Linked DNA regions of Homo sapiens: region 1 is linked to region 2. The links come from fine-mapping of genetic effects on gene expression. A gene starts in region 2. The other region holds a variant in brackets. All regions are shown on one strand. Distances are between the middles of the regions. Region 1 overlaps ATP2C1 (ATPase secretory pathway Ca2+ transporting 1). Region 2 holds the start of ASTE1 (asteroid structure-specific endonuclease 1).

The links. PIP is the estimated chance that this variant, and not a neighbour inherited with it, causes the effect.
Region 1: its variant is the best candidate, but not a certain one, in a credible set for the expression of ASTE1 in substantia nigra (GTEx, PIP 0.60).

Annotation. Positions count from the first base shown.
Region 1 is chr3:130,958,082-130,967,700 of GRCh38, forward strand. ATP2C1 (ATPase secretory pathway Ca2+ transporting 1) reads left to right here. Exons shown (of 28, transcript NM_001378687.1): 12 at 1,194-1,260; 13 at 5,890-6,014; 14 at 6,867-6,964; 15 at 9,064-9,159; 16 at 9,249-9,338. Among named protein-coding and RNA genes, the nearest start is that of ASTE1, 64 kb to the right of the region's middle. The variant T/C (reference allele first, on the strand shown) is at 4,470.
Region 2 is chr3:131,022,135-131,031,753 of GRCh38, forward strand. ASTE1 (asteroid structure-specific endonuclease 1) reads right to left here and starts at 4,691. Exons shown (of 6, transcript NM_014065.4): 1 at 4,373-4,691; 2 at 3,340-3,460; 3 at 1,871-3,197. The coding sequence starts at 3,172. NEK11 (NIMA related kinase 11) reads left to right here and starts at 4,743. Exons shown (of 18, transcript NM_024800.5): 1 at 4,743-4,872; 2 at 5,796-5,868; 3 at 7,479-7,744. The coding sequence starts at 7,575. RefSeq lists enhancers at 4,343-4,582, 4,723-4,782, 4,863-5,052.

The sequences.
Region 1 (9,619 bases), 64 kb before region 2:
AGTTTCTATTAGCACTATACCATAAACCATTTCAAATTTAGTAATAAATATGTTTCAACTTTACGATCTCTGGTTATATGTTAGTATATTACATTGGACATAATTTTTCTTGCCAAGGTCAAGAGCTAGATCAGGGGTCAGCAATTGTTTTTTTTTGTTTTTTGTAAAGAACTAGATAGTAAATATTTTAGTCCATATGGTCTCTGTTGGAAATACTTTACTTTGCCATTAGCATGAAAGCAATCATAGAAAATATGTAAATAAATGAGTGTGGCTATGTTCCAACAAATTTCATTTACCTAAGCAGACAGGAGACCCACAGATTATAGTTTGCTGACCCCTGGTATAATCCTTTGGACATAATTTCTTTCATCATGATAGTATTTGGGATAGGATCTTAGAAGGTTGCTATTTGGATAATTATTCTTTAGTTATATAAAGATGAAAAAAAAAACTTGTCTTAAATGTTCATATTGATTTGCAGTCTTGAGATAGCTTATTTTATCAAACCTCTCGTGAATCTGTTTGCTTTTTCCTCACAAACCTGCTTGTGCGCCCCTTTCCCCCTATTCTTTTCAAAGATAAAAGGTTAAAGCAAGGAGTATTGGTTTAATTGATTTTTAAATTTTTGAAATGCCATAAAAGTAGTGATTTTTAGATGTTAATGCAGTTGTAGGTGCTTAACGTAAGGCACATCACTTTTTGAGCCAAGTCGTAAGTGTCCCTTTGTGTGTAGTATGGATTTGCTGAGAAGTGTCTGGATATTGTGTTATGGAAAATAAAGTTTTAGGGTTTAATTTTGCATATTTGATATTAAATAGAAGACCTATATGTTTGCTGCCACCTTCTTTTTTTCATTGTATGAACATACTGGTAATTTTTAAAAAAATAATAAAATATTACTGCTTTAAGGGATGGTAGGAGCAGTGTCAACCAAAAGTAAAACTGTGTGTGTGTGTGCATGTGTGGTGTGTGTGTGCACACATGTACGTATGTGAGTATGCACAGCATTCACATTAAGCAGTGTTAACTTTAACCTCCCCTGTTTAATGGATTTTTATAAAATCTTCTAATTGTGATCTGATATGCTTTCCCTTTTTTGTCAAGGGACGTTTTAGATTCCTTCAGCTTGTTCTGTTCCTTCTAGGTGATTGTATGTAAAAGGGAAAAATAACTATTTAATTATCTTTCAGGAATCATCATGTTGGTTGGCTGGTTACTGGGAAAAGATATCCTGGAAATGTTTACTATTAGTGTAAGGTAAGTCTCAATACTTTATAATTGGAGTCTCTTTTGCCTCTTTTATTTCTCTAATGGACATAGCTTACGTTTTATTATGGAGATCAGTATTACATGGAGCCCATAAGAGTATAACATCGCTACATAAATAGTTCAGAAGTCATATATTAAAATTATCCTTAGAAAAATGAAAATGTATGTATATGGTAATGAAGAAAACCCATACTAGATGTCTGGAATTACTAATGCATTATTGCCTTTTTATATATAAATATACAATTAAGGATTGTCAAATTGAAAACTAGCAACATGAAAGAGAAAGTTCACAATATAGAAATTGAATAATCAATTTCAGAGGAAAACGAAACATTGAAGAAATGATGACAAATTTAAAAACCAAGTGTTTGTATTTTCAGAGACTTGTGAAGAAACTGCATCCATGAGATAAATTGTTGTAGAAAAGGATCAGAGAACAAAAAGAGTTTTTAGAAATTAAGATTATGATTGTTGAAATTAAAAATTCAATTGTAGGGGTGTAATATAAATTCAAAGAGGTCTCCCCCCAAAAAGAGTAAAAAGTCTTAGAATGAGATAAAATGATGAAGAGGAATAATTTCAGGAAATACCACTTGTAACTAATTGGAGTTTCAAAAATTACATAAGATATGACACACAAGTATTTTCTCAAGCTAAGGCAAAAAGTAAGTCTTTATAGATTGAAAGGATTCACTAAATACCAAGCAGAATGGAAAAAACTTCAACCTTGATACATAATTGTGAAACTAAAGAAGAAAAGTCAGGTCATCTACAAAGGAAGGGTAACTACGCTGGCATCAGACTTCTCATTAGCAACTGCAGTTTCTACCACAGGATCTTTTTGGGTTCTTCTAAACATTCCAACTCACAAGACTTTCACAGACCACATCTGATACCTGTGCCCTGAACACAGCAGGGTAACTTCAGGCAGCCTTCTCCTGAGAGTCCGCAGCAGTCCATGTAGCAATTCACTCAAGTACAAGGAGATAAGGTCAACCTTGTGAGTGTGGGATCTACCTTGGGTTAAAATATCTCGTGTTCTATGAGAGACGTATTTTGAAACATGCATTTCCAGATGCCTGCAAAGGACATGTCTAGTTACAAGTTACTACACTTGAGAAACTCAAAGCTATGATTTCCTATAAGATAATTATAACTTTCCTAGTCCAGAGAGATTTTATTAGTCAGGGGATCCCTTAATCATAGCAGTGTTATCTAGCAGCATACTTGACATATTATTCTTACCAGGTCACTAGGTGAACAGAACTAGAGTTAATCAAATCCAGAAGGGGAAGATTATTTTATTAACTGTTCATCCACAGCAACATCAGATTGCATTAGAATAAGTGGAGCCGTGGTAACAAATTAGGGGGGCAATTGATCATAAATCTGTAAATTGGGCCTAGCCAAAGGATTGGTCCAATTAGTGACAAATAGGTAGGCAAGTACTCAGAACATTCATTTCCTACCCATCCTTATATGAATTCCAGCAAAACAAGGGTGAAAGAAAGGAAGATGATAATAGACATAAGAAAGGGCAAGAACTTACTTAGGCATCTAAGAAAAAGAAATCCTGGTAGACCTCTGTTGTAGGCATATGAAATATTTCAAATATTAGAACAAAAGTCAATGTCTTTCAAAAAGAAAAGTCAAATAGATTACAAGGAATCAGAATGAATAAGAAGTAAAAAGATATTTGTGATATAGTGAAAGAATGTGTTTTTTTTTTTCTCAAGGGAGGGGGTGAAAATGCAATTTGAAACTCTTGGTTTAAATTTGTGTTTAAAAACGCCATGGGTTAAATATAAAATACATTTAAAATGGGGAATAAGTTTGAGATATTAAACATTGACATATTATCCATTGGATCATTTTTAGTTTTTGAGGATTTGGGTTTTTTTTTTTTTGAGTTCTGTTTGTACAGATTGACATATCATAACTTCTGTTCTTTCTTCAAGGTCTTCCAAAGGACAAGATACTTAAAAATTTTCAAATAGAATAAAACTCATTCTATTTTGCAATTCTGTTTTGCAGTATGGATCCATTGGAATCTTTTATAAGTATAAGCTACATTATGGGACCTTTAATGATCCTATTTTTCCTCTTTCTTGAAGTATTTTACAATTTCTTCACCCTAGGAATTATTTTAACAATTATTTGCAAGAGTGCTGAAGATGACTAAAACAATAAGAAAGCAGAAAAATGATGGAATCATTGAGAAGGTTGATGTAATAATAAAGTAAATAATCACTATTCTCTTATTCTTTAGTTTTCTTATTGTGTTGCCTAAAGTATTGCATCATTTAAGAAGGTGTAAAAGAAGTCTAAAGGCACAATCTTTAGGTTTGTTTGTTACAGCTTTCATTGAACAAAAATGAGAATTCAGAATTTTTCACTTTCTACTATAATGGCAAAGAGAATAATTGACAGAGAAGACTTTTCACAATTATTAGACAAATCAGAAGATCAGTGCAAAGAGCCAAATAGAAGCACTGTAGGCCGTAATGATGTGGGTGAAATTAATAATATAAGTGAAATCTCAAGACTGAGTCTTTGGATGATGATACTCTAGATCTTCTCAAACACCTTAATTTTGATGAGTGAGCAATCTGTTTTTAAGGACAAAAAAGAAACAGGTATTCTCTTCCAGTTAATCATTCTGCAGCAAGGACTCTATCATGTAGTAGTTTTCAGCAAGAATCTGGACCATCTCTTTTAGCTAAACGAATGCATGACCCTATTTCATTCATCTTTTATGATGCTTGTTTATCAGCATTGACTTCATACTGCTTTTAAGTGGAGAAATGCTGAAGGCTGGTATGAATATAAAAGTGATTAAAAGGAAATAGATTATGCAGAAGTAGAAAAATTCATTGGATTCATCATTGTAATTGGTGTTTATAAATCTAAAATTGAAAATGTTTTGCAGTCATGGACCAAAGAAGATAACTGTTCTCTTTTCAACACAATTGGGAGCCATCAGTGGTTTTAGAAGTGTTGCAATTTGACAGAACAAATGCAAGAAAGAAGAACTAGATTAATAAGCTAGCGCCTGTTAGAAATATTTTTTGAAATCTGAAATCAATATTTATAAGATAAATATGTTCCAAGTTCACCAAAAGCAGTAGATGAGCAGTTAGTTGCATCCAAAAGATGTTACCCATTTCAGGTATAGATGCCTTCAAGTCCAGGAA[T/C]AGTTTTGGGTTATCATTAAAATGAAAATTTAGAGTGAAGTTTTTTTACAATTTAATTATTCCTCTGCAAAGTTTTGCTAAGATGACTTAAATATAAAAGATTGAAAAGATTCGTTGTATCTAGATTGTAAGTGATAATGCCTGTTTTTCCTTAATGGAAGCATTAAAAAAAAAAAAAAAAAGAAAAGAAAAAAGAAAAAAAAGGATTCCATTTGAACTAGGAACATTCTCTTTGAGTAGCCCAAAGGAGAAAAGGAAGTATTAATGATAATACATATTTCTTGACTCTTCAGTGTGTATTGTTTAGCCAATAATGTTGTTGCTTATGTGCTTTCAACTTTAAAATCAACCAGTAAATAAAGCATGAAAAAGTCAATTACGGTTATAGAAAAGGATGCTAATGTACTAGATTATGCAAAGAAAAAGTTGGTAATGGAAATTAGGAAGTAGAAGCAGCAGAGGGAACAGTGGTAGAATGAAGGGTTAAATTGCTTATGTCCTTATTTCTAGCAGATCAAGAAATAGTATTTGGAATGGCACAAAGAAAGACTTGTTATTTTTTAATTATAAAAGGCGAGTGAAATAATTCTTTAAACTGTGATAAAATACGCATATTATAAAATTTACAGTTTTAAAGAGTTAATTTGGTGGAGTTAAGTATGGTCGCAATGTTTTACAACTGTTAACCGCTATCTAGATTCAGAACCTTTTCATCATGCCAGAAGAAAACCCTGTACACATTAAGCAGTCACTCCCCAGTTTTCCTCTTCCCCTAGTCCCTGGCAACCACTCACTAATCTGCTATCTCTATGGATTTGCCTATTCTAGATATTTCATATAAATGAAATGATATAATATGGGACCTTTTGTATCTGTCTTTTTTCACTTAGCATAATGTTTTCAAGGTTTATTCATGTTGTAGCATGTGTTAGTACTTCATTCCTTTTTGTGGCTAAAGTAATACTCCATTGCATGGATGTCACAATTTTACATTTATCAGTTGATGAATATTTGGCCTGTTTCCATCTTTTGGCTATCGTGAATAGTGTTGCCGTGAACATTCATGTATGAGTTTTTGTTTGAACATTTGTAGTTATCTGTATTTTATAGATGAGGACAGTAAACTACAGAGCTAGATTAGTAAGTAGCCCAGGATCACACAAGTAAGAGATGGTGAAGCCAGGGATACAAATCCAGGCAATTTGATGTCAGAACCTACATTTTTTAACCACTGTGCTTAACCTGGCAGCTACTAGGTATCCAGTAAATGTTAACTTTCTCTTCCTTTTGAGAAGTTTATTTTTTAGGTATTGACTATATTAATTTTGCGTTTTATTAAGCTTTAAGTAACATCCAATTTAAATTTTGCTGTGAGTGCTGTTTAACCTACATTTTAATACTTTGTATATGTTGGTTATAGTTTGGCTGTAGCAGCAATTCCTGAAGGTCTCCCCATTGTGGTCACAGTGACGCTAGCTCTTGGTGTTATGAGAATGGTGAAGAAAAGGGCCATTGTGAAAAAGCTGCCTATTGTTGAAACTCTGGGTAAGTCTGTGTTAAGAGCATTCTTATGCAATGATGCGTAAGTTTATGTCAATAGTGAATCATCTCAGAGTTTTACAGTTTTTATCTTAGAGATTTGCATAATGATGTTTGGCTTATGGCAAAATTGGATATGGTTTTAACAACCAAAAAAGGCAATTAAAAATTCCTATCCCTTAGGTGAGGGGACTTGAAGAGAAATCTTTCTACATCATGTTCTAATGCACAAATCATGTTAAGAAAATCCATACAACAACTGAAATCTTGGAGTAAAATTAATAGAATTTTTTTCTTGTGACATGTCAAAGAAGATAATGTATTATTACAGATCCCAAATGTCATACTTGAGTTGAATTTGCCTGTAAGAACAGTAAATTTACAGTAGTTATATTGCTGTAACAAAACTTTATGTGCAATATGCTTTGAAACTCCAAAAATGTACTGAATTTAATTTCTAGTTTGTATTTTAATATCTTCTCCATATATGAGAAGCTGAAATACCTTGAAAAATCCTGATTGAAGAAATTATACGGGTTTATATTTAGAAACTCTCCAAACTTTCTAGAAAAGATGTTATATAAGATCATTACATAAAGCTAATGTGAAGTAGCTTTGTAGAAACTAACTGTATATAAATAAGAACATGTCATCATCTAATTTTTATTTTTAATTTCAGAAACTGTACCTTATGCTGAAACAAGCATAATGAGAGAAGTTAATCTAAAATTAACAATGAGTTTGATTTCTATAAAATTCAGAGAAGTAGGACAGGATTCTAGTCTTTGATTTGTTTTTTAAGTGAACCTATATTTCTCCTTGATTCTTTTGGTGACTTGTAATGATTTAATTCTTTAGGCTGCTGTAATGTGATTTGTTCAGATAAAACTGGAACACTGACGAAGAATGAAATGACTGTTACTCACATATTTACTTCAGATGGTCTGCATGCTGAGGTACTCTATAGGTTTTTAAAAACAAACAAAAACAGTATCCCTTTAAGAAACTTGGTGTTTAACATTCCTAACAGTTCCAGTGTCTTACCTTCAAAAGGGCTGTAAATTAGTAGTGGAGTTATTTTCTCTCTCTGTGATTTTACCAAGTCTTTGTCTCATTCCACTTGTACACTTGTTCAATCCAAAAACTTTGATTCCTCCTTGACATCTCTCTTTCAGTCACCCCTTCATCTATCCATAATCAAATCCTACCAATTTTGACTTCCTAAAGAATTTTCCCAGCCATCTACTTTATAGCCAGCTTCTTTAAGTTACCGCCATTTCTCACCTGCCATTCTGATAAAGCTTTTTGACTGGTCTTTTTCCATTCTTGATGCCCTCACTCCATAAGCAGTTTGAGGGATCTTTTTAGAACCAAATTTTAAGCATGTCACTCCATAAATTAAGGTACTCCAATGGTTTTCCATTGTGATCAGGATCCTGAACTGTGGCGTCTCAAAGCCGTACATGTTCTGTCCCTTATTTTCTCCTCTACCCTTATATGCTACCCTTTGCTTTCTGTGCACCAAGTATACTGGCTTTATAGTTCTTTCGATGTGACACAATTATTCCTACTTTAAGAACTTTGCTGCCTTTGTCACTGTTTAGGATAGTCTAATGCCTCTTCATCCTTTGCACCTTAATTCCAACCCACTTCTTCAGAACACCCAGAAGTGGCCCTATGTTATATGTTGTCTTAGCATTTCATACCTCTTAGTCCTTATCTTAGGTAAAATTTTCTGTCCCTTTTCCCCATTATAAGAGAGCAGGAGCTATATTGCCTAGCACACAGCCTGCTTCATAGTAATAAATACTCGATAAATGAATGAATGAATGAATCACTTTATTTTAACAATTATATATTGATACATTGTCTCTTAAGTGCACATCACTGTGCAGTAGTTCTTCCTGAAGGTGCTTATGGACAGGTCTAATCCTACTCAGTCTATGCAGGATTTCTGACTGGAATGCTCTTAACACTACTTATGTTGGGTACAGTGATTTAAAATGTATTTATAGCTAATTCATTGAGAAAAATAAGCAGTAGGCAAATTGACAGAAGTTGTACTTGGGTTTATTTACGTCCATTTTACATAGGTTTTGAAAAGAGACTCTTGATATTTACGGTGTTAGATCTGGTCAAAGATCCCCCATGCTGTGTTGGTGAATGTGCCCTTTCTGGATGATTCAGAAGGGTCATTGGGATTACATGTGCTTATATGATCCAGGTATGGAAGGTAGAATATTAGTTTTTCTTTTGTTTTAAGGTCATGCTATATGTAATGCATTAACTATTTGTTAATTGTTTTATCTCTCAATTAATGTCATTAAACATTTTTTATTTATTTTTATTTTTAATAGAGATGGATCTTGCTTTGTTGCCCAGGCTGGTCTTGAACTCCTGGGCTAAAGTGATTCTCCTGTCCCAGCCTCCCAAGTGTTAGGATTACAGATGTGAGCCACCACACCTGGCCACTAAATTGTATGATTTTTATTGTGAAATTTCTTTTCGTTTGGCTTGGTTTGTTCTAGACATATGATATAAATACCTGGTTTGTCTCTACCTCTGATTTTTAAAATTGGTGTGTAATATGCTGTGTTAAAGTGATTTGTAAGTGCTAGCATATATCTCAATGTCTCCAGGCCTGCATGTTTGCAAAAAGAATACTGCTTTTGTCTAAGTCACAGCTTTGTGTTGTATGTTACATATGGTAATGCATTTGAGTTCTTTGCAAACTGTAGTATGCTATATAAGTGTAATGTCATATAAGTTTAAGCTTACTTATGTATATTTTCATAGCTTATTCTTTTAACAGTATATTGTAATTAGAAAACAATGTCTTTTTAGATTAATAATTGTGATGAGAATTAGAATCTATATTTCTTTACTAAATGTCCTTTTTAAAGACAAATTTTAATGCTTTTCTAGGTGAACACTTTTAACAGTGTCATTATAAATAAAATGAACAGAACTCATTATAGTTTTTGGGTTTTATAGGTCTTGTCACCACCAAGTGTTTGTAGTGTTTGTATTATTGATCCCACTTTGTGATCTTTAGGTTACTGGAGTTGGCTATAATCAATTTGGGGAAGTGATTGTTGATGGTGATGTTGTTCATGGATTCTATAACCCAGCTGTTAGCAGAATTGTTGAGGTAAATATTTTTTTTTCCAAGATGGTGACTTTCTTCATAATAACTTAAGACACAGTGATAGGTTCATAGTTTATGTGTATTTTTCTTAGGCGGGCTGTGTGTGCAATGATGCTGTAATTAGAAACAATACTCTAATGGGGAAGCCAACAGAAGGGGCCTTAATTGCTCTTGCAATGAAGGTACGTACCTAAATTTCTCTTCTTTGACATTTGAGACACTGCCCTCACAACAGAATGCAGTGTCATCAATTTCAGTATTACTGGTTTTTAGGTATTGAGTGAAAAAAACTCATACTATTTCATTGTTTTTACTATCTTTTAGGTATCAGTTTTATTCCTATAAATGTAAAGTATAGACTTTTTTCAGTATAACTTTATTGTTCACATGCAAGTTACAAACTAATGAGCAGTCATTGATTTCTTGTGAAGAAATGTTCCTGTCTTCCACAATGTTGAGATCT
Region 2 (9,619 bases):
ATATCTTGGGGCTTCCCTGAGTGCAGTGTCTTGTAAGTAGGATGTCCCTTGCAGGGACCTAGCTATGTTTATGGAATTATTATAAGAAAGACTGGATCCTATAGGGAACGGGGCTTTTAAGCTACTGAAACCTTTTCTTCTCCTTTATCTAACTGAGGTATAATTCATATGTCATAAAAGTCATCCTTTTAAAGCATACAATTCAGTGGGTTTAGTGTATATATATTTTTAGAGACAGGGTTTTGCTCAACAGGGAGCACAATCATAGCTCACTACAGGCTTGACCTCCTGGGCTCGAGCAATCCTCCAACCTCAGCCTCTTGAGTAGCTGTACCACCATGCCTGGCAAAAAATTTTTTTTTTTTTTTTTAGTAGAGACAGTCTTGTTGTGTTGCCCAGGCTGGTCTTGAACTACTGGCCTCAAGTGATCCTCCCACTTTGGCCTTCCAAAGTGCTGGGCTTACAGGCATGAGCCATCTTGCCTTGGTTTAGTATATTTATAAACTTGTGCAGCCATCACTAATTCCAAAACATTTTCTTCACCCCCAACCAAAGAAACCCTGGGGGTTTAACAGTCACTCGCCAATGCCAAGAAGGCTCTTGGACTCACTGCCCAATGCCAAGAAGGCTCTTGCACTCATTCACTATGACATTCATCTCCTCCTGTCTGAGATGTGACTGAAGAGGAGGCTAAGAGGCTAGTTCCTGGTCAGCTGTATAGCCCAGGGAATGGCACTACTGATATTTTGGGCTAGAGATTCTTTGTTATGGGACACTTTCCTGTGCACTGTAAGACTTACAGGTTGTAAAATTTAGCAGCATCTTTGGCCTCTCCCCACTAGATACCGATAGCAACCACTACCCCTTCTACTCCCTAGGTAGGGACAACAAAAATGTCTCCAGGCATTGCCAGATGTCCTCTGGGGGACAAAATCACCAATGGTGATAAAGCTTTGGTGTAGACTGATAACAGTGCTGGGAGAACTCTGACAGAAAAGGAAGACCTGACTTAAATCCACTGGGAAGCTGTGGTTGCCGTCCTACATCCTTAAGTAGACTGGTGCCACGTGTGGTCTGTGAGTTTTGTGAGACTGAATATTTCATTGGATCTAAGAAGATCCCCTAATGGGCATTGCAATTGTTTTTTTTTTAAGTTATCTCTATTTAATGTCTAAATCTAGTTCTTTTATCAGCATAGTTTCATATCTATTTGTAATTTTAAATATATATGTAATATAAAAAGACAACACTGGGATCCATGAGAATTTTTTTCTCCTTGAAAAGGTGGTCTGGGTGTTACTCAGGTTTAAGCAACACTAAGTTAGACTAAGAGTCATGTTTTCTGTATCAAACTAGGCAAATAACCATAATGACACAAAAACCTATTTTAAAAAAGGTATTCATTAATAAAAGTTAAAAAATTAGACCTTAGCATCAGTACTAACCTTATCTGAAATCCGATGTAGTCTGAGATGTTGTGCCTATGATTAGTGTCTATACACTTTTTTTGCAGTTGTGAATTTTTTTCCTTTTTTTTTCAGCCACGTAACCCATTCTATTGATAGCTAGTATTAACCTGGTAGTAATAACAATATAGTAGTAATAACTGTGACGATAACACAGACTACTGAAGTACAGTGGAAATGGTAGATTTAGAGCTAAAAGAGCTAGGTTTGAGTCCTAGCACTGACACTTTCTGGCTAAGACATTACCTAGTTCACTCAAGTTCTAGATTTCTTAGCTACGACATGAGGGCAAGATAGCACTCAACCTCATCAGTTTGTTATAGTAAGTGAACTAATATAGAAGACAGCACTTTGTATCCTGTAAAGTACTTTACAAAAATTTCATTAGTATTACAAATACTTACCTCAGTCAATCTGCTTAAGTCAGAATGATCCTTGGCCAGTTCTACTGCATCAATGATTGAGGTTCTGATATTTTTATTAATCCTTTCCACTTCACTGAAAGCTAGAGGCTGAGGAGGCAATGCATTCCAGGATGTCTTGTCCAGATGTGGTGAGGCATTTAAAAGAAGCCCATAGATGATTTGCCTGATGGGCTGAGATATTCTGTGGGCATTTGGTTGCTGCATGTTTTCCACCTGTGTGGGAAGAATGGTCCGTCTTAGGACCAAAGCATCACTGATGAAAGGAGATAGCTGGCCTTTAGCTAAAGCCACTAATACCCATTCTGGTAAACCAAGATTCAAGGCATCTGGACAGACATAAGTACCACACTGGAAGAAGTCCTGTAGCTTCACCTGGGACTGTTGGTATTCTTCCATGGAACAGCAGAGAAGTTCCTTAACATTTTCTCGATCCTTTTTTGGGAGGTATTTCAGAACATTATCTAGTGCTTCGGTAGGGTTGGCAAAATGAGACAACCAATTCAGAAGTCCCAGGATTCGGTGGTGTCTCCTCCCTTTAGAACTGGTAGCTCCAAGAGGAAGACGCGCTTTACTTAAGAATGTCTCCATGATGGGTAGATTAACATGGTCATTTCCACATAGCACCGCAAAGAGAGGTAGTAGAGCTTTATTCATATTGCTGAAGTGATGGCAGAATGCATCAAGGGAAAAGCATTTGGCAGGGATATAGTTTTGTGTGCCCTTAATAGTGTTCATATTTCTCCACTGAAAGCTATTCAATGGGCAAAACCCAGTTTTCAGGTCAAAAATGCAAAAGTCACTATCTGATGATAACACAGGGCAATTCCAATGGTTAGCAAGTGTCATAATGTCCCGATCTGCTTCTGAAAAGCACTGGACAAAACACACCCGCAGCTTGATCAAAACCTGTATGAATACTTCCCGGATGAGTAAGGGACATACGTACCCACTCCCACCAACAGAAAGGGAATGGGCCATCTGGATCTTCTCTCTAGCTCTATCCTTTAAAGTTGTAAGCTTTTTATCTGAAATGTCACATCCTCCATCTAATACAACATATGGGCATATATTACAAGCAAACAGTGATTCAAAGAATTTTTGTACAACATCTGCAAAAGAATCATAGTCCCCTCCATACCGGAGATCCAAGTTTGAACTGAAGCAAAGACGGTGGAAAAGAGCATAACCATCAATGACAATTTTTGTGTCCCGCAACTTCAAATCAGTGAAGAACTCATTACTATGATCTTCCACAAAACTCATTAGTCCTCGGATACCCATGATGACAGTCTAAAGAATTAATCGCCTGTTTAAAACAACAGAAAACATTTTCAATTGATGCTAGTTATGGGGCACCAAGTCATTGCTTCCAGCACCATTAAATCAATAGCAAATGTTATGAAGTGCTCTTTAGATAGAACATAGATATCAACATCATAAATTCTTACCTAGATCCTCAAGCAATGTTAGCTGTGCTTTTTCATTCTCCTTTGCTTTCTGATACAAGGCACAAATTCAATGGTTTCATGGGTTGTAATCTTTGGATGGTGACAGAGGCTGCTGCTAATTCTAAAGAAAAATCAGTTGAAGTCCATTACTGACACACCAGTATAGAAGTTCTGTGAACTTTGATTCTTAAGTGGTAATAGTCAACATCTTACAGCACAGAGTATTTGTTTTGTGGGGTCAAAGTAAAAAGTCCTAAGCTAAAAAAAAGATATCATATTCATCTCATAATCACAAAGCATTTGGGCTTCAGTAAAGTAAGGTGTGTAGGACCTATGATAAGGATCAAGTTTTTCTTTTGTATTGACAATCAGTCACGGAACTTCTTTCAGGCTTTGGATTTGTGGGCCCTTCTTAATTGGCATAGTTTTTGGTATAAGGAAAACTGCTTCATGCCTCTAGGAACCCCTCTATCCAGTTACACCCCTAACCACGAGCTCTTTTCATCATCTTATTTTGCATATCTGGCCCAGCTACGCTTCCTCACCTGGCTAACTTAACTCGCAGGATCAGAATTGATGGTTTTTCTTTTGACACCTCGGGCTTCAATATGGCACAGCACGGTACTGTTACTATTACTTAAAATCGTGACATTTTGTCAGTCATGGATTTTTTTTGCTATAATTTTGATTTTTAGAGATTGCATTAAAACTTACCTTGATTACTGAATTTTATTGGCATCCATTTACATTTTACACTTATCTCACCCTAGTTCCAGCCCTGTCAGTATCTCAGAACCTTATCCTGTATAGTACTTATTTCTTTGCAAGATAGTTTTGTAAAGCGTCCATAAGCAGAGACTGTGTCAAGGCGTCCTACGCAAATTACAGGACCTTGCACAGACAGTTGCATAGAGCTGCATAGGGGAAAGGCGGGCAAAAGGTCTGACCTAAGTCTTCAAACACAGGCCTTCATACACCGTGCCACCTCGGCCCTCACAACCCGCCGCCCGGACCTGCAGCAGAGCCCACCTACTCTGTCCTCCCAGAGGAGTAGCTCCTCCATCAGAAGCCCGCTAGAGCCCAGCGAGGACTGGCTCCTGCACGTGAGAGTCCAATCTCAAGAGCGGGAATCGGAAGTCTCCCGGTGTGACGTCTCTGGGAAGTACAGTTCCGTGATGCCGGTGGCGCCAGACTGAGCCAAGGAGCAGGTGTTCTCGGGCCCAGAGGCGCTAAGTAGCTAAAGAGGGCTGGGACGTACGTTCCGAAATGGCTGCTGTCAGGCTAGGAAAGCTTGGCCCGCCGGTCCTCCTCTGCTTTCTCCGCCTACTTGGGTCGGCGAACACTTCCGCCTTGGTGCCGCCTCGCCCCGACTTCCCAGTATGCCCCGCGCCGTCTCCCTGGCCACGGTTCCAAACAGCCGTGGCCCGCGGTGTCTGGCGCTCGGTGGGTGTGGTTGCCCCTAGTTTGAGGCCTGCCCGATTACCCGCAAGACTTGGGCAGCCCCGGGCGCCGCTCCGACCACGACAGGGAAAGGTAAAGCGAACTGTCCTCCTTGGGGCTAGCCAGGCTCCCCTGCGAGGGGGAAGGTAATGGTTTCAAGCTGCCCGGGCTGGGTTCCGAATCTCTAGGACGCCATGGCTGCGATCTCCTCGCTTTCCTGGACATCTTACCTCCGGATGTACTCCAGTCTCAGTGCCCCTCAATAAACGTTAACCTGCTTTGCCAAAATGTAAATGTTTAAAAAGGTGAAGAAGCAAGGAATTGTTCGTTTTACCTTAAGGTTAAGATTTACTTTAAAGGTAGATTTGTGCTGTAGCAGAAACTGGTGACAAATTGCCTTCCTCTTATTACCTGGGAAGATAACTACTGGTTTTCAACTTGTGATAAATACTCCTTCCGTTGTCTTTTGCCCCCAGCCAGATCTGTTTCACCGAGAACGGGTAGTTTGCACAAGGTAGTAACTTTCTCCAAGTTCCCATCTAGCTTTCTTAACTAACCTTTTTTCTCTCCTTTGGGCGGCAGTTGATCTGCTGGACACTTACTTGCCTTAACAAGGTTTGTTAAACACCTAGTATATGCCAGGAGGTATGCCAGGGATTGGGGATGCAGAAATAAAGAAGATGTGTTCGCAGTGCCCAAGTTCACTCAAACCTCGAGGGGGAGCGTGTTGTCAAGTGAACAGATAGTTCTAGAATCTAGACAATGCGACACATTCTTGGGTAGGTTTATGGTTGCGCAGAGGAGACTAATGGAATGGATGACCTAAAAGTGGACTGGGATGGGGGTGGCAGGGCTGAGTCTGTGAGGGTGGGCGGGAGGGAACCTAGTCCCAGAGTCTTCTGCAGCCTGGACCAGACTACTTAAGCACTGCTGGGTTTAGACTGTCCTTTAAAATAAGAGCCGCTAGAAGTGAACTTCTCATTCTGTCCGTCCCTAATTCTGTCCTTCTCTAAAAGGAACCTTAATCTCATCTTTAAAATAAGGAGAATTACTGAGTGACCTGAAGGACCCTTTTCAGCTGGAAAGTCTGTAAGTCCATATATTTATTTGAACAGCTTAGTATGGCCAGACGGCATCACTTTTATGACAGTGAAGGGGAAGTAAAAACAAAAGGTATATTTAGAGGCCTGCTCTGTAGTTGTTTTTCCAGCAGATTTTACTAACGTGTCTTTGGAAGGGAAAAGAAAAAGCTGGTAACTAATCTCACTGGTATTAGGTACAACTTAACTGATTCATACATTTTAAGAAGGAAAATGTTGTAAATGGGCATTTACTTATGTTCTGTTTTGAGGATTTTTGTGGTTAATTGCCCTAGTAGTTTTTGTGGTTGACGGACACCACCACGTAAAGCCCATTGACCATCCTTAAAAACTAGGTTTTTGTCTCATAGCTTTGGAATTGTTGAATATGAAAACCTAACTTCAAGGTGTAGGCAGTTTTCAATTTAAAATGTTATTTCTATATAGATTTAAAACAAAAGCACACTTTTCTTGATAACTAACAAAACATTTAACATTCTGATGAAATAAAAGTGATTTTACTTTGTACCTACTCATATGAAACAGTCCTGCCTTTCTTTTTTTTGTTTTTGTTTTTGTTTTTGTTTTTGTTGAGATGGAGTCTTACTCTGTCGCCCAGGCTGGAGTGCAGTGGCGAGATCTCACTGCAAGCTCCGCCTCCTGGGTTCACGCTATTCTCCTGCCTCAGCCTCCCGAGTAGCTGGGACTGCAGGCGCCCGCTACAATGCCCGGCTAATTTTTTTGTATTAGACGGGGTTTCACCGTGTTAGCCAGGATGGTCTCGATCTCCTGACCTCGTGATCCGCCCGCCTTGGCCTCCCAAAGTGCTGGTACTACAGGCGTGAGCCACTGCGCCCGGCCTAAACAGTCCTGCCTTTCATAACTGCCACGTCTCATAGCTCCCTGAGGAATTACAGATTTATCTGTAGCATTTATATTCCACTGACATTAAATGGGATTTTAGGTTTGAATTGAATTTGTAACTCTTCCTGTTTTTAATCCAGAGAGATTATACACAATGTGTACAATAGGAACTTCAGAAACTAGAATTTGCTGAGCATGGGAAAAAATTCTCAATCCTTATCCTTCTTTGCATCTGTCCTAATAAATACAAAAACTGTGGTTTAACATCTACAGAAAAAAATAAATCTAAAGGAAACAGCACCTGCTAATTCCTTGTTTAATCCTAACTCACTCTTTGTAAACCAAAGTAAATATAAGGTGAGAAGAGGGCATTACAAAAAGGTTGATGCAGATGTATAGATTTAAGGAGGTGATAATGTTCTTGTATTTGGATTCTTTTATAAGTAGTTGGGGAGTATAAATCTTAAATAAATGAAGAGATTGCTCATTGTAAAACAGATGTACATCCCAGAAATTTGTGGAAAGTTGGCTATAATTCACTTCTGCCAAATTTCAATGTACAAAGGGAGGCTCTTCCTGTGAAAGATTGCCTTCTGGAATTTGTGGTATCTCTACCTTTTAACATTTTTTTTCAAGTTGTTAACCAATATGGTGTCAGTCTGCTGATCAAGGTGCAGATATCACTGCACTTAACACTTTTTGTTAGACATCGTTTAGCAACCTTTAGACCTGATCTTTTAACTTTTCATCTTTAAGGAACTGACCAACACTGGATGAATTTGACCATTTCTTAGGAGACTGGAATGTTAAGTTTCTATAAATGAATGAACCAGTTCTCTCTTGTTTGGAGCAATGCTGAAATTCCAAGAGGCAGCTAAGTGTGTGAGTGGATCAACAGCCATTTCCACTTATCCAAAGACCTTGATTGCAAGAAGATACGTGCTTCAACAAAAACTTGGCAGTGGAAGTTTTGGAACTGTCTATCTGGTTTCAGACAAGAAAGCCAAACGAGGAGAGGAATTGTAAGTAAAAATGCTTCCTATGAATCTTGAGTAGGCTGCTTTTTGTTTGCAGGTCTTAGCTGATTAGGAACATGGAGCAGGCCAGGTATGGTGGCTCATGCCTGTAATCCCAGCACTGTGGGTGGCCAAGGTTGGCAGATCACTTGAGGCGAGGAGTTCAAGACCAGCCTGGCCAACATGGCAAAACCCTGTCTCTACTAAAAATACAAAAATTAGCCAGGCAGGGTGGTACATGCCTGTGATCTCAGCTACTTGGAGGTTGAGGCACAAGAATTGCTTAAACCCAGGAGGTGGAGGTTGCAGTGAGCCGAGATCATGCCACTGCCCTCCAGCCTGGGCAACAGAGCAAGACTGACAAAAAAAAAAAAAGAACATGGAGTAATGTCCACTTTGCTCTTTATACCAAAGCAAGTATTTCATAAATATAGGTAAGCTCCCTAATTAATCTTTCATATTAGGTTTAAAGGCATTTCAGCAGGTGAATAAAGTATCCAAATGACCTAAAGAAGGGAGCTAGAAATGGGATAGATTATGTGAAAATAAGATGTTTGGGCATGCCACAGTCTCAGTGACAATATTACTTCCACTTAACTTGATTGGAACTTCTTGAATGAGAAAATAAGAATTGTTCATAATGACTATTTTTAGAAATGTTACAAAATGCAAATAAACAATTATTCACATTTGAGATGAATAGGGTATACCAAAGAAAGTAACAGTATTAATTTTCTTTGGGCTTTCCATGGCGAGGATTTTCAAATTCCGTAGTCAGAAAGCTGTCAGATTAAACACTTAAACCAAATGGACACTCCTATTTAAAATTAGCTTATGTTAATGACCCCCTTGTCACCTCGTCTCTTTTGATTATGATCGGACCCTCTACACTTTCATAGTAGAGAAAAACTCTTAATAGCTTCAGACAGTACCTCCCTTACAGATAAACCTCTAGTTTTTGTGTAAAGTTTTTTTAATTTGCTGCAGTGGAAAGTAAGTTGGAACTGAAGTTAGGGTAAGAAACTTGCCTATCAGAAACACAGGAGGAACAGAAAGCAGAAGGAAGAATGATCCAAGATATCAGCCCTTAACCCCAGAAGACCACATTTTCATCCCATAATATATTGTTTTCTTCTAAGGTTTTAAGGCTACTCTAAGTTCTTCCAGCTTTTGCCTATTGGATATTTAAGAGTGGATTTAAAATCAGTGTGATAAACACTTTTCTACATCTTCATAGGTCATAGGAATTGTAAAGGTAAATGTTAGTGATGTTACTACTTTGTTTTAAAACTCAATCTTTTAAATGGTCTCTGTCCAGAATTTTTAAAAGCTGTAATTATCTAGAATTTATAGTTTTTAGTCAATTTCTACATGAGGGATGATAAAAGAGCTGGCATTTTTCTGATGTCCTTAGAACATGCATTATGATTCCTGCTGAAAAGGATTTTTTCTCTTTAATCCTAGAGGTGCTCTTCTAGCCATTTAGAATAGAATGATAAATTTCTGACAATTATTAGATAACCTTTATGGAAACATTGAGAGTAAGACCTAAACCAGACCCAGTACTTCTAAAAACTACACTGTAGGATCATATCCAATTTTGGTTTCTTCAACTAATGAGGAATATGAAAAATTTTAAGATAATTCACAGGAGGACTAAAAAGTTAATTAAAAGGATGTAAAATAAGATGTATGAAGATCAAACTTGAAACCTTTAGACTTAAGATAATAAGTGAGTGGAGAGAGTGTGTTTGTAGTCAGCGGGGAAGAGAGAGAGAAAGAGAATGAGAGAGAAGAAAGGGGGCTGGGGCTGGTTGGTTGGCAAGTGATTTGTTAGTGATCTTTCTTGTACCTGAACCAATCTTAAAAAAACACATGACT